3 separate regions of the Homo sapiens genome follow, and all the other regions are reported to be linked to region 1. The links are microRNA targets in miRTarBase. Many come from high-throughput screens and were not tested one by one. Region 1 holds a microRNA gene; each other region holds the end of a gene's coding sequence.

Region 1 (4,251 bases):
ACTCATCCAACACAGATACAGGTAACAAGTATGCTTAATGTTAAACTCATAATAAATGTCACAAAGTAATGACAGCATCTTCTAAAGCAAGGCATAGTCCCTTCTAAAGAATGAAAGAATGAGCTAAGAAATAAAGACGGCACAGCAGCCTTTGAGTCTTGCTCCTAGTTCTGCTGCAGAGTACCAGGGTGGTTTCAAAGTAACATCGAACCTTCAGCCGTGCTTCTTTATGACATGGGGCTAGTTATTCTTGACCTCTTAGTAACATGACAATCACTGGTGGTAATTCACCATAAAAATATTTGAGCATAGAATCAAAATCCTGACACAGGGAATTTCATCTTTTCTTTGAGGTAGCTGAGAGAGAGAGAGAGAGAGAAACTATAACTACAGACTGCATAACCATTTCCTTTGACATATTTTGTACATTAAACTACCAGAAAATAATAAAATGGACTAAATACCTCATTATGTACCTTCTGACTACCCATCTGTATTTTCTACTGAAAAGTATCCAGACATGGAACAACTAACTCCTTCCTAATTGACAGATCTGGATTTGAGTGCTGGTTTGGCTGCTCATATGCTCTTTGTAGATTGTGGGATTTCCATCTAAGACAGGTAAAATGTCTGTTGTTCATGACATTGGTTATCACTATGAAATGACCAAGTTTATGCTTTGAGATAATCAATCTCTACATTATTACTATTCCAGTCTTTTGGTATTTTTCCATAGAAGTTTTCATAGAGGTTGGCTAGAGCATATCTCAATAAGAGGGATATAAAATTGCATTCAAAGACCAGCTTAGCCTAAAACCCAAAATGTGAATTCCAAAACATGGCTCTTTATCTTGGAAACTTCCTTGAGTGGAGAGTACAAAATTCTTTTAATTTGATGATATCTAAGAAAGTGCAATACAGTTGCAAAAAAACAGCCCCAATTTGTAATGCCTTCCTGAGTTCATGTCCTTTGCCATGAAACTTTGTAGTAGTGGCCACTCTGCCTTCAGGATTGGCCATGTGGCTTCCTTTGACCAATGAGATATTAGCAAATACAAAGCAGGCAGAAGCTTGTAAGATCCTTAAGTCACTTGGCTTGTCCTTGTTCTTATTCCTCTGCCTTTACCATAAGAATGTGCTAGAACTAATCTGTTGTCAGATGTGACACATAGCACAGAAATTAGCTGCCCCCATCAATCTAGTGACCCCATCTTAGAGCTGACAGCCAGAAGAAATGAGCCCAGGCAAGACCAGAAAACCTGTGTAAATCACAGATACACAGACTCATGAGCTAAATATGCATTTATTGTATGCCACTGAGGCTTTGTAGTGTTTATTATGCAGCATTTTTTTGTGACAATGCTGCATTTTTTGTGACAATTTGGTGTTTATTATGCAGCATTTTTGTGACAATGGACACCTGATATACTGAATCCCTCAAAGCCTCACATTTTTCTTAAAACAAAATCTAACCCGAGGAAACAGAATATGAAAATACAGCATGGGTACAAGGATTAAACAAAACTTGAATTCTAAAATACCATAAAATAATCGTACCCAATCTTACCTTTCATAGGGAGAAAAGGCCTGGAGGAATCATGATCGTTCTCACCATGTTGTTTAGTGCAAGACCCAAGGAAAGCTAGGAGGCTGTACAGTTATCTCCCTTGATGTAATTCTAAACTATACAACCTACTACCTCAACCTGGGAGCATGCAGTCACAATGGCTGGAAAACTACCATTTCTTAAGCAGGGAAATTACAAGTTAGTCTTATAATGATTCATCGTGCTGTCACCTATTTGGGCCATTCATAAGAGACAACATATCAAAGAGTCTGATGATAGAAGAGATAACACAAAAACCTTGGCTTGAGATTACCATGAAAACATGAAGGGAGCAAATACTTGGGACTGGCCTTCTTGAACTATTTGTGCATGGAAATTATAGTAATGTTACATAATGGTGATTCTGAACAATTTAATGCCTTCTGATATCTGTTGACGAAATAGAATAGTAGAACAATATTTAAACTTGGGCAATTAAAAAAAGATTAGAAAAATAAATGTTCCTCTGGTAAAACTGAAAAACTGGAATCACTAAAAGATGGATATATAAGAAGAAATGGCTTAAACCAAAACACAGTGAAAAGACATAGAAAACATGATTCTGAGCAAAATACAGATTAAGAAATACCGCAAAAGCTATATTGAACATCCACCCAACAATATTTATCATGTATTTTACATAATTCTCATATTTAGAAAGTGCTCCTTTTTCCAGAGTTGACTGTTTCAGCATTTCTCATAAATCTGTCCCCAACAGTCTATTCAACAACCTACAAAATGTGCCTATTTCCCTGTTTGCACTTGTAATTTTTTTTTTTTCCAAGACAGAGTCTTGCTCTGTCACTCAGGCTAGAGTGCAGTGCTGCGATCTTGGCTCACTGCAACTTCTGCCTCCCTGGTTCAAGTGATTCTTCTGCCTCAGCCTCCTGAGTAGCTGGAATTACAGGAGTGTGTCACCATGCCCGGCTAATTTTTGTATTTTTAGTAGACACGGGGTTTCACCATGTCGGCCAGGCTGGTCTCAAACTCCTGACCTTGTGATACACCCACCTCATAATTTTAAACTGAATCTTTCTTGTATCTTCAGTCCCAGGCAGGTGCTGGAGCAGGAGATAGGCTCCTACAAGCTTAGCAACTTCTCATTTCTATGTAAACTCAAGTTTGGTCAGGTCTATATTTTCCCACAAGGACTGCTCTGTGGTCTATCAGAAGCCACCTCTCCTCATTGCTTAGCTGGACTCTGGTTTTGCCCAGTAAAGGCTGTGCTACAAAGGAGCTAGGTCAGCCTAGGCAAATAGAGATGGAGGCACATCTGAGCACACTGAGAATCTTCCTGATACTTCTACTGCACTGATCGTGTTCAAAAGACAGATTCAAATGCCATAGCATTGATGTTTCTTCATGTTATTCCACTAGCCTGGAGAAAAGTGATTTTTTTTCCAATGTTTCCAACCCTATTTCCTTATGCTTTGATGAGGTGAAACTGCTTTTTTTGGGGGGCGGAGCGGGGGGGCTGCCTCTGTTAGATCAAGGCTACCTAGTTTGGGAGAAAGACTGGGAGGTTAGTTTTATCAAAAAAAAAAAAAAACTCTCATTCATCCTTCAAGCCTCATTTGAAAGAGTTCTTCCTCTGATTATCTCACAATTTCATATATGCATTTATGCTTTAATTCTCACATCATTGCATTATAGTTTATCTGTTTGTCTCATTCGCTGGACCCCAAGCTATGTGAAAATGGGACCCCATAATTCACCTTTGCCAATCTGGTATTATCTGCAATGGCGAGTAGATGGCACATATAGAAATTTAAAAAAAAAAAAAAACTTTGTCAAATGAAAAGAAGAATATATGCATAAATGGATAAATGGGAGTATAAATGAACTTACAGTTAAGGGATGATCATTTTTATTTTTATGTCCAATCCTTTGTTCTTCCACTTATGTTAGAATTTCACTCATAGTAAGATGGATTTGCTATTAAGATTCCAGAGAGGGCAAAAAATCAGAGTGGCTGAATTCAACCTGGCCGGTTTAACCTTAAATCCCAGATCTCCTATGGAAACTCAAGATGTATTTCCAAGTCTTCTGCTACTAGATGCTCACTTATGTAGAAGATTTAACACTTACTGTGACCAAAAAAGAATATATAATTCATTTTCTTTCCTCTTAATTTGAATTTTTTCATTCACCTTGCAGTGACACTGTGCCTGACTCTGTAAGCACAATCACGATATATAACCCTTATGAATGGGACACAAGGCAGGGGAAGGGCAGTAAGTGTTGACAAAGGAAGACACAACAAAGAGAGGATAAGATCCATGTGCTAGAGTGCTAGTCAATCAGCCACAACATACAGTTCAGAGGGCTTTTAAATACCCAGAAATGGAAAAATTGATCTTTTTCCATGTACGTTCTTATTCTGGGGGTCAAAGATATAAAGATGCTGCTCTTAGAATACTAATGGTTTTCAATACCCTGCTCTTTTGGTTGTGAATTTCCTTGTTTATTTACACTGATTTTAGCCCATTATCATGTATTAGTGCAATTATGGCTCATTACATAATTAGTGTAAATATTTGTAGGCATGTAATAACAACATGCAATTATGATATGGAATGATGTCATAAAAATTCTTATCGAAAAGTACGAGTGAAAAATAAAACAAGAAGTAGTATTTATAGGTG
Region 2 (4,251 bases), not on the chromosome of region 1:
TTAAAGTAACATTACAAACATATACTACTAGTGTCTCCCAGTACAAGGAGCAGTCTCTTGACTCAAAAAATGAAAACTAATATGTGGAAACTCTTAAAGTTTTCCCACTAATCTATTTAAATGTAAATATCTGTCTTCTAGTTGGAGTCCTTCATGTTTTTGTTTCCAACTCAGAGAAAATGAGAATAATGAAGATACTCTTCCTTGCTCGTTTTTCTTAAGAGTACATAAAGATAATATATAATGTATTTCATTGAGGAGGAAGAGAAGTAGCAAGGATTTCAATGAAGACATAATGATTACAAACCAGTGTACTATACAGATTTCAGAAGCAGAAACAATGCTGAACAGCCTGCTCAAGTTTTAAATAAACTGTCTTCTCACTCAAAGTACTGATACAACAGAGAAGGTATGTAAACAGGAACAGTTTGCATGGGGATTGGAAAAATGTATAGGAAATTAATATTTCTTAAAAGCTCCCTGCGATAGGAAGTCGAAAACCCAATCACTTTGCATCTTTCTGCAAAAAATTCCCCACCCAATCAACCATATAAATGCATTGCCACAGAAGATAAATAATGGATGGCTAATTTTCACCTTACAGTGCAGTACACAATTAGTTGAGAAAAAAAATAAACATAAGATATATATTATAAAATGTTTTGTCAACAAAAACAAACTTTGAGAAACATGGCGCACTATAAAAGCTAAGAAACTCATTCACGAAGCACTGCTTGTGTACACCACATATTCCAGACTTTTTCCAAGTAACATTCTATGTTAACAGTTTAGAGCTACTAATTCAGAGAGGTCTTATTTCTCACTGCTTGCATTTTAAAGAAATATGTCTAAAGCGCATTGTAAACCACTAATATTTACAATAGCAAAAAAAAAAGCTCATAAAATGCATTTTGGCCATGTTTCAGAGAATACTTAACAGGTCAACATCGTTCTGTGTTGTGGTTGGCCTTGTGTCTTACATACAGGAGATGCCTAACATCTAATAACCAAGAGTTTCAACTGAATTATATAACCATTTTCTTCAATACTTACATGTGCCAATTTTAGGCAGAAACCACAGTATGATATTCCAGGTGGTGTGGTAATCCCAACCTTGAAAAAAAGCCCAACGAATGTAATTTTTTGTTTTCTAGGTACAAAGCATAAAAAACTAGCCCCAGGTAAGGCAAACAAAAAGTCAATAAGGAAATCTGGAAAAAAAGGCCATTGCAGTTATACACAAATCTGTTCATGTTGCCAAACAAAATCTCATGGCTGAACTTCTGTAGCTTGTGAGGTACTAACAACTTACATGCAATGTATGAAAAAGAGACGCCGTGTATTCAGAGTTTTACATCCTGAAGACATTAAGCTGGTCTATTTTCAAGTTACCAATGCATGGCCCTATAACAAACATCGTATAAAACATACACACCTTCATGGAAACTATCTTATCTCCCAACTCTGGTAAACACAAATAGTAAGAGAAAACAACTTCTAACTCACTTTGACAAAACTTTACAGACTTGGCCCCTAATTAGACAACAAATAAATAAAGGGGAAGTCAAAACGGAAGGGGCAATAAGGAGAAAGGGGGAATCTAACTCTTGTTCTAAAGAGACATTCTGGCACTTCATCACAGCCAGTAGAAGAACAATGTAAAACCTCCATCTCACTACACATTTGACGTCTTCCACTCCAAACGCTCTAATCTAGTCAGAAAAGAGCACAGCTCTTCGCTGAAAGTCCCCCAGGGTTCCCTGCATCAAGCCACTACAGGGTTATTGAAAAATATAATACTTCACTTAAGGATATGCTGCTTTTCTCCTTGAAAACATTTTGTAGACCTGTACTCATTTAATTAGGGTTGCAGAGGAGATGGAAAAACAAGCTGTTTGATTATGAAGGCAACACTTCTGTCAGTAGAATTGCTTTGGATTGTAAATATGTTTACTTCAGAGGAAATCAGTCAGAGTGGATGGCTCAGCAAAACCCATCACAACTGCGGAAAAAGGAAGTGACTGGCTAGAGGTAAGGAAATAGATTTTCTCTAAGTTAACTGGCCTACGTGTGAATCGAACCCTGCACCCTGGCCTCATTAGCACCAACACTGTGAAGAACAGCTGTGGCAGAGAAAGTGCCACGGCCCCACCCCATCACCAGATTCAGTAGAAAGGCCCTTGGAATTTCCTACAAGGTTCAGTTCTGAACAGCTCCACTTCAAATCAGTATAGAATCCTCACAGTGACTCTGTGAGGGAGGTAAATGTCACTGCTCCCCGTTGGTGGGGGAAACAGAGGCCAGAGTGGTTAAAGATTTTGCCTGAAGTTAAAACAAAAAATGAAAAGTCACTTGGACTGCAGGGAAGAATACTTACAATACAAGGCAATTAAAAAAAAAAAAAGAAAAAAGTTGAGCCAACCTGTCACTCTTCACTCAGATGCCATGAAAGACATCATCACCAGACAGTCCCCACACTCTTGCCACTTGGCAGGACAGGCTCCATGACAGAGGATTTTTCACTCTGTGGAAATATAAAGCCTATCTCTTTTCCCATGGGCAGAGAGAAATATGAAGTCACTTGAGTGCCTGGACAAGTACTTCCAAATTTATAGCTGATGCGAGGTGAGGAGTGGACAGAATTGGCGGGAAGGAATAGTAACAAATTAAATACTGCACTAATGGGTTAGTTACAGACATGAATTTTTCCAAATATAATCTCACAGGTCTAATTTAATCCCTCTGCACGAGACAAGTGCCTCTGTCTACAACACCTGTAATGTCTGTACCACGTCATGCAGTCACATTGGAATTACTGCATGCACTCTTCACTAAAGCTTAATGTACCTGAATTCCAAATGAACTGTATGACTAATCTGGGGAAAAACCATACACACAGAATACATCAAGTTTTCTTTCAAAAGAAAGTCCAGCCATAATTCCATTATATCCATGGCAACTATCACCTGTTAATGCTAATGTTAGTGTGTAAAAATGTATTCATCATATACAGAGAGATTATCAAGTACTGGTCAATAAAGTGTACAGCTGACCCTGAGAATAAATTTTTGCTTGCTTAAAAGATTAAGTAATACAAAATAAAATGAAAATGAAAGATGCCTATTCTCGTACTTGGGAAGAAATGTCTTTAAAATGCTGACTAATGTATAACCTAATATATTTAAAGACACCCCCAAACACTGTAATTATATTGATATGTTTCCAGAAATAATCTGAAAAAGTGTACAAAAAAAGTAAATGTTAAAGGCAAGGCATTATGTGATACACAGCATATAAATCTGATTTTCAAGATAGTGTCTAAATACACTGATAAAACTATGTGATTGGTTATCAATTGGTTGTAAAGAGACAACATTTTCACTGTACATATACACACATCCATACATGTAAGCACAAACCAAGAGAAACCAACCAACAAAACTTGAAACTATTAGTAATTGTACTGACGCGGGCAGGGCTGATGAACAACCCAGCCATTGTGCTTGACTTGCCGAGGGTGGCAATCCCTGGTAAGATTTTGGCGACGAAGGCTATTTCTGTTAAGAGGCTGTCTTTCACTGTGTTCTTTTATCCACTGGGAAGGGCGAAAGCTCTTGGGTTGTTCCAGAAAAGTTGTATGAGCAGCAAGAGCTGCAACATAACAATGAATATGCTGCCCCATTTCATTTTGAGCTTCCACTCTGAAACAGAAAAAAGTGGGGATGTATTAAATAACAGAGTATGTTATTAACAAAACTGGAAAAGTTACTTAGCAATTCAATTTGCCACGCTAATTTGTTTATGGCTGAATGAGAGCTTGTGTTTCATGGCTGACAGACAAGTTTATTATTCTGTGACCCCACTGACTGATAGTGGTGGAAAGGAGAGCCAACTGTTACTAGAAAGATGCCATATAAGCCCCAGATGGCTCACTAAGTAGACTGTTTTCTAAAAATACACTTTAAACTTTGAATTTCATTTACGGAGCACACACATTTATATAAGCTTGTCTGGGAGGGGAGCTAACATTTATTGAATATCTGCATTTGCCAATTCTTTTGCAAATATATATTTTAATTCTCACCATAATCTTAAAAGGAAAATATTTTAATTCCCAAATTTTACTGATCAGAAAGCAGTGTGCTCACAATACCTTCACAAGACATTTCCTGTCTATAAGTAAAATGTTCCAGGAAACATGCTTTAAATCTTTATTTAATAGAAATTTGCATATGGAAATTCTACTCATTT
Region 3 (4,251 bases), not on the chromosome of region 1:
GAGGATTGTATACATGACATAAGCTTTATCTCTGCCTTTGAGCAATATATATATAGAGAGAGCTATATATATATATATATTTTTAATTTTTTAATTTTTTATTTTTTTGACAGAGTCTCACTCTGTTGCCCAGGCTGGAGGGCAGCAGCGCAATCTCGATTCACTGCAACCTCTGCCTTCCAGGTTCAAGCGATTCAACTGCCTCAGCCTCCTGAATAGCTGGGATTACAGACGCATGCCATCATGCCTGGCTAACTTTTTTTTGTATTTTTAGTGGAGATGGGCTTTCATTATGTCGGCCAGGCTGATCTCCAACTCCTGACCTCAAGCAATCTTCCCACTTGGGCCTCCCAAAGTGCTGGGATAACAGGCATGAGCCACCACACCTGGCCCTGCCTTTGAGCAATATTTTGTGTCTCCACTTTAGCAGTTTAGCAACAGTTTTTTTAAGGGAAAAAGTTTCTATTATTTTTTAATTATCATTAAAACTATGTCATAAAATGGCTGTTTAGAAGGTATTATATTTAGTTAATGAACTAAATATAATAACAGTCCATGTCTGTGATATTGATTGGCTCAATGTGGGTATCTTATGAATCCAAGTTATTAATGGGATCTGTTATTTTGTAGGTTAAAGCATATTTAAAGAAGGAGTTTGAAAAACATGGTGCGGTGGTGAATGAAAGTCATCATGATGCTTTGGTGGAGGATATTTTTGATAAAGAAGATGAAGACAAAGATGGGTTTATATCTGCCAGAGAATTTACATATAAACACGATGAGTTATAGAGATACATCTACCCTTTTAATATAGCACTCATCTTTCAAGAGAGGGCAGTCATCTTTAAAGAACATTTTATTTTTATACAATGTTCTTTCTTGCTTTGTTTTTTATTTTTATATATTTTTTCTGACTCCTATTTAAAGAACCCCTTAGGTTTCTAAGTACCCATTTCTTTCTGATAAGTTATTGGGAAGAAAAAGCTAATTGGTCTTTGAATAGAAGACTTCTGGACAATTTTTCACTTTCACAGATATGAAGCTTTGTTTTACTTTCTCACTTATAAATTTAAAATGTTGCAACTGGGAATATACCACGACATGAGACCAGGTTATAGCACAAATTAGCACCCTATATTTCTGCTTCCCTCTATTTTCTCCAAGTTAGAGGTCAACATTTGAAAAGCCTTTTGCAATAGCCCAAGGCTTGCTATTTTCATGTTATAATGAAATAGTTTATGTGTAACTGGCTCTGAGTCTCTGCTTGAGGACCAGAGGAAAATGGTTGTTGGACCTGACTTGTTAATGGCTACTGCTTTACTAAGGAGATGTGCAATGCTGAAGTTAGAAACAAGGTTAATAGCCAGGCATGGTGGCTCATGCCTGTAATCCCAGCACTTTGGGAGGCTGAGGCGGGCGGATCACCTGAGGTTGGGAGTTCGAGACCAGCCTGACCAACACGGAGAAACCCTATCTCTACTAAAAATACAAAAGTAGCCGGGCGTGGTGATGCGTGCCTGTAATCCCAGCTACCCAGGAAGGCTGAGGCGGCAGAATCACTTGAACCCGGAGGCGGAGGTTGCGGTAAGCCGAGATCACCTCCAGCCTGGACACTCTGTCTCGAAAAAAAGAAAAGAAACACGGTTAATAACATATAAATATGTATGCATTGAGACATGCTACCTAGGACTTAAGCTGATGAAGCTTGGCTCCTAGTGATTGGTGGCCTATTATGATAAATAGGACAAATCATTTATGTGTGAGTTTCTTTGTAATAAAATGTATCAATATGTTATAGATGAGGTAGAAAGTTATATTTATATTCAATATTTACTTCTTAAGGCTAGCGGAATATCCTTCCTGGTTCTTTAATGGGTAGTCTATAGTATATTATACTACAATAACATTGTATCATAAGATAAAGTAGTAAACCAGTCTACATTTTCCCATTTCTGTCTCATCAAAAACTGAAGTTAGCTGGGTGTGGTGGCTCATGCCTGTAATCCCAGCACTTTGGGGGCCAAGGAGGGTGGATCACTTGAGATCAGGAGTTCAAGACCAGCCTGGCCAACATGGTGAAACCTTGTCTCTACTAAAAATACAAAAATTAGCCAGGCGTGGTGGTGCACACCTGTAGTCCCAGCTACTCGGGAGGCTGAGACAGGAGATTTGCTTGAACCCGGGAGGCGGAGGTTGCAGTGAGCCAAGATTGTGCCACTGCACTCCAGCCTGGGTGACAGAGCAAGACTCCATCTCAAAAAAAAAAAAAGAAGCAGACCTACAGCAGCTACTATTGAATAAATACCTATCCTGGATTTTAAAAAAGAAAAAAATATATATAATTTTATTTTAAATTGGCTTTTATCTTTAATTCTTTTTTTTAAAGTTATCAAATCTTCATTTTCTAAGAGTAGCCCTTTATAGTGTACAAAATGATATTAAGTGCATTATTATCTTCGCTTTTCATGGCTCTGAGTCATAAAACAAGCTGGTGGATCTCACTGTACCTAATTTATAGACGAGGAAATTGTCATTCAAAAAGATTGACTGTTATGCCCAGGGTCAGCACTAACCTGCAGAACCAGTATTCAGTCCCCAAGTTCAGTGTCTTCTACTGCCCTCTACTAATGAAAAGTGAAAATTTCCCTGGGGTCTAATTCTCTCTTCAGTTTGCTGTGCCGTTGTTTATCTTTGAGTCTTCATTCTCTGAAGATGGCTTTCTGCCTGTTTCTGGTACATTAGAATTCTCACTATGATATAGAAATGGCTTCAGTTTCATAGCATAATCTTGCAGTTAGCTCTGAATTGCCTCAAAAACCCTGAACAACGCGAGGTTCCAGATGTGTTTTACTTCTTTCATTCATATTTACCCCCATTTGTTGTTTAAAAAGAATTATGAACAATTATTACATCATATGTAGACCACTTTCACTGATTATATGTTGACATTTTCCTCAGTAAAACATAAAGTTCTTAACAAGACTATACTGTAACACCTTTCTCCAACAAAATCAGCTGTATGTTGAAAACTATTAAGTCATTGCTAATGTTTTAAGCCATAATACAGACAGCCTTATACTCTATGATGGGAGAAGGGAAAGTAGTTTGTCCGATGGTGCTACTCTGTATAAACATTACTGATGCTATCTATAGTAGGGCAAGAAAAGTAAAAAGAGTTTTGATTATTCAGGCAGCATTTTTAAAAACCTGTGAATTTGTATCAGTTCTCATCTAAACATTTGGACACAAGTATAAAATGAAAACATATGCACAAGTTATGGTTTTTAAGTTATCTGCTCTTTTTTTTGGTTTCACTGTACCTTTGTACTCTTCTATTAGTGGGAATAATCAGACATGAACTGTGACTTCACATGTACAGTCATACCTCACTTAATGATGGAGATGCACTCTGAGAAATGTCTAATTAGGTTATTTCATCGTTGTGGGAACATCATAGAGTGTACTTACACAAACCTAGATAGTGTAGCCTGCTACACATGTAGGACATGTATATAGCCTATTGCTCCTAGGCTACAGCATGTTGCTGTTCTGAATCATGTAGGCAATTGTAACACAATGGCAAGTGTCTGTTTATTCAAACATCTAAACACAGAAAAGATACTACAACAATAACAATATGGTATAAAAGATTTTGTAAAAAATCTGGTCAGGTGCAGTGGTTCACGCCTGTAATCCTAGCACTTTGGGAGGCTGCCTCAGCAGGTGGATTGCTTGAGCCCAGAAGCTCAAGACCAGCCTGGGCAACATGGCGAAACCCCGTCTCTGCTAAAAGTACAAAAGCTGAGGTTGGAGGATCACCTGAGCCTGGCAAGGTCAAGGCTGCAGTGAGCCATGATCATACCACTGCACTCCAGCCTGGGTGACAGAGTGACTCCCCATCTAAAAAAAAAAATATATATATATATATATACTATATATATATATATACCATATATATGGTATATATATATATAGTATATATATATATGGTGTGTGTATATATATATATATGGTATACCTGTATAGGGCACTTACTAACGGAGCTTACAGAACTGGAAGTTGCTCTGGATGAGTCAGTGGTGAGTGAATGTAAAGGCCTAGGACATTACTGTACACTACTGTAGACTTTATAAACACCGTACACTTAGGTGACACTAAAATTTATAAAAAATGTTTTTCTTCTGGTTGGGCATGGTGCCTTATGCCTATAATCCCAGCATTATGGGAGGCCAAGGTGGGTGGATCACTCGA

Evidence for each region. The annotated mature microRNA hsa-let-7a-2-3p reads CUGUACAGCCUCCUAGCUUUCC and lies in region 1 at 1,637-1,658, opposite strand. An mRNA with a match to its seed (bases 2 to 7 or 8) in the 3' UTR can be bound and repressed. Matches are read on the target gene's strand: a 7mer-m8 pairs with bases 2 to 8, a 7mer-A1 pairs with bases 2 to 7 and ends in A, and an 8mer does both.
Region 2: miRTarBase lists TP53INP1 as a target of hsa-let-7a-2-3p. Seed matches in the 3' UTR shown: 7mer-m8 at 3,042-3,048.
Region 3: miRTarBase lists FKBP14 as a target of hsa-let-7a-2-3p. Seed matches in the 3' UTR shown: 7mer-A1 at 2,425-2,431 and 7mer-m8 at 4,109-4,115.

The regions. Positions count from the first base shown.
Region 1 is chr11:122,144,887-122,149,137 of GRCh38, forward strand. MIRLET7A2 (microRNA let-7a-2) reads right to left here and starts at 1,707; the gene lies at 1,636-1,707. All of the region lies in intron 4 of MIR100HG (mir-100-let-7a-2-mir-125b-1 cluster host gene), which reads right to left.
Region 2 is chr8:94,927,028-94,931,278 of GRCh38, forward strand. TP53INP1 (tumor protein p53 inducible nuclear protein 1) reads right to left here. Exons shown (of 4, transcript NM_033285.4): 4 at 1-3,701. The coding sequence ends at 3,452. It also overlaps a transcript of NDUFAF6 not described here. Among named protein-coding and RNA genes, the nearest start is that of TP53INP1, 20 kb to the right of the region's middle.
Region 3 is chr7:30,011,273-30,015,523 of GRCh38, reverse strand. FKBP14 (FKBP prolyl isomerase 14) reads left to right here. Exons shown (of 4, transcript NM_017946.4): 4 at 631-4,251. The coding sequence ends at 789. All of the region lies in intron 2 of FKBP14-AS1 (FKBP14 antisense RNA 1), which reads right to left. Among named protein-coding and RNA genes, the nearest start is that of FKBP14, 13 kb to the left of the region's middle.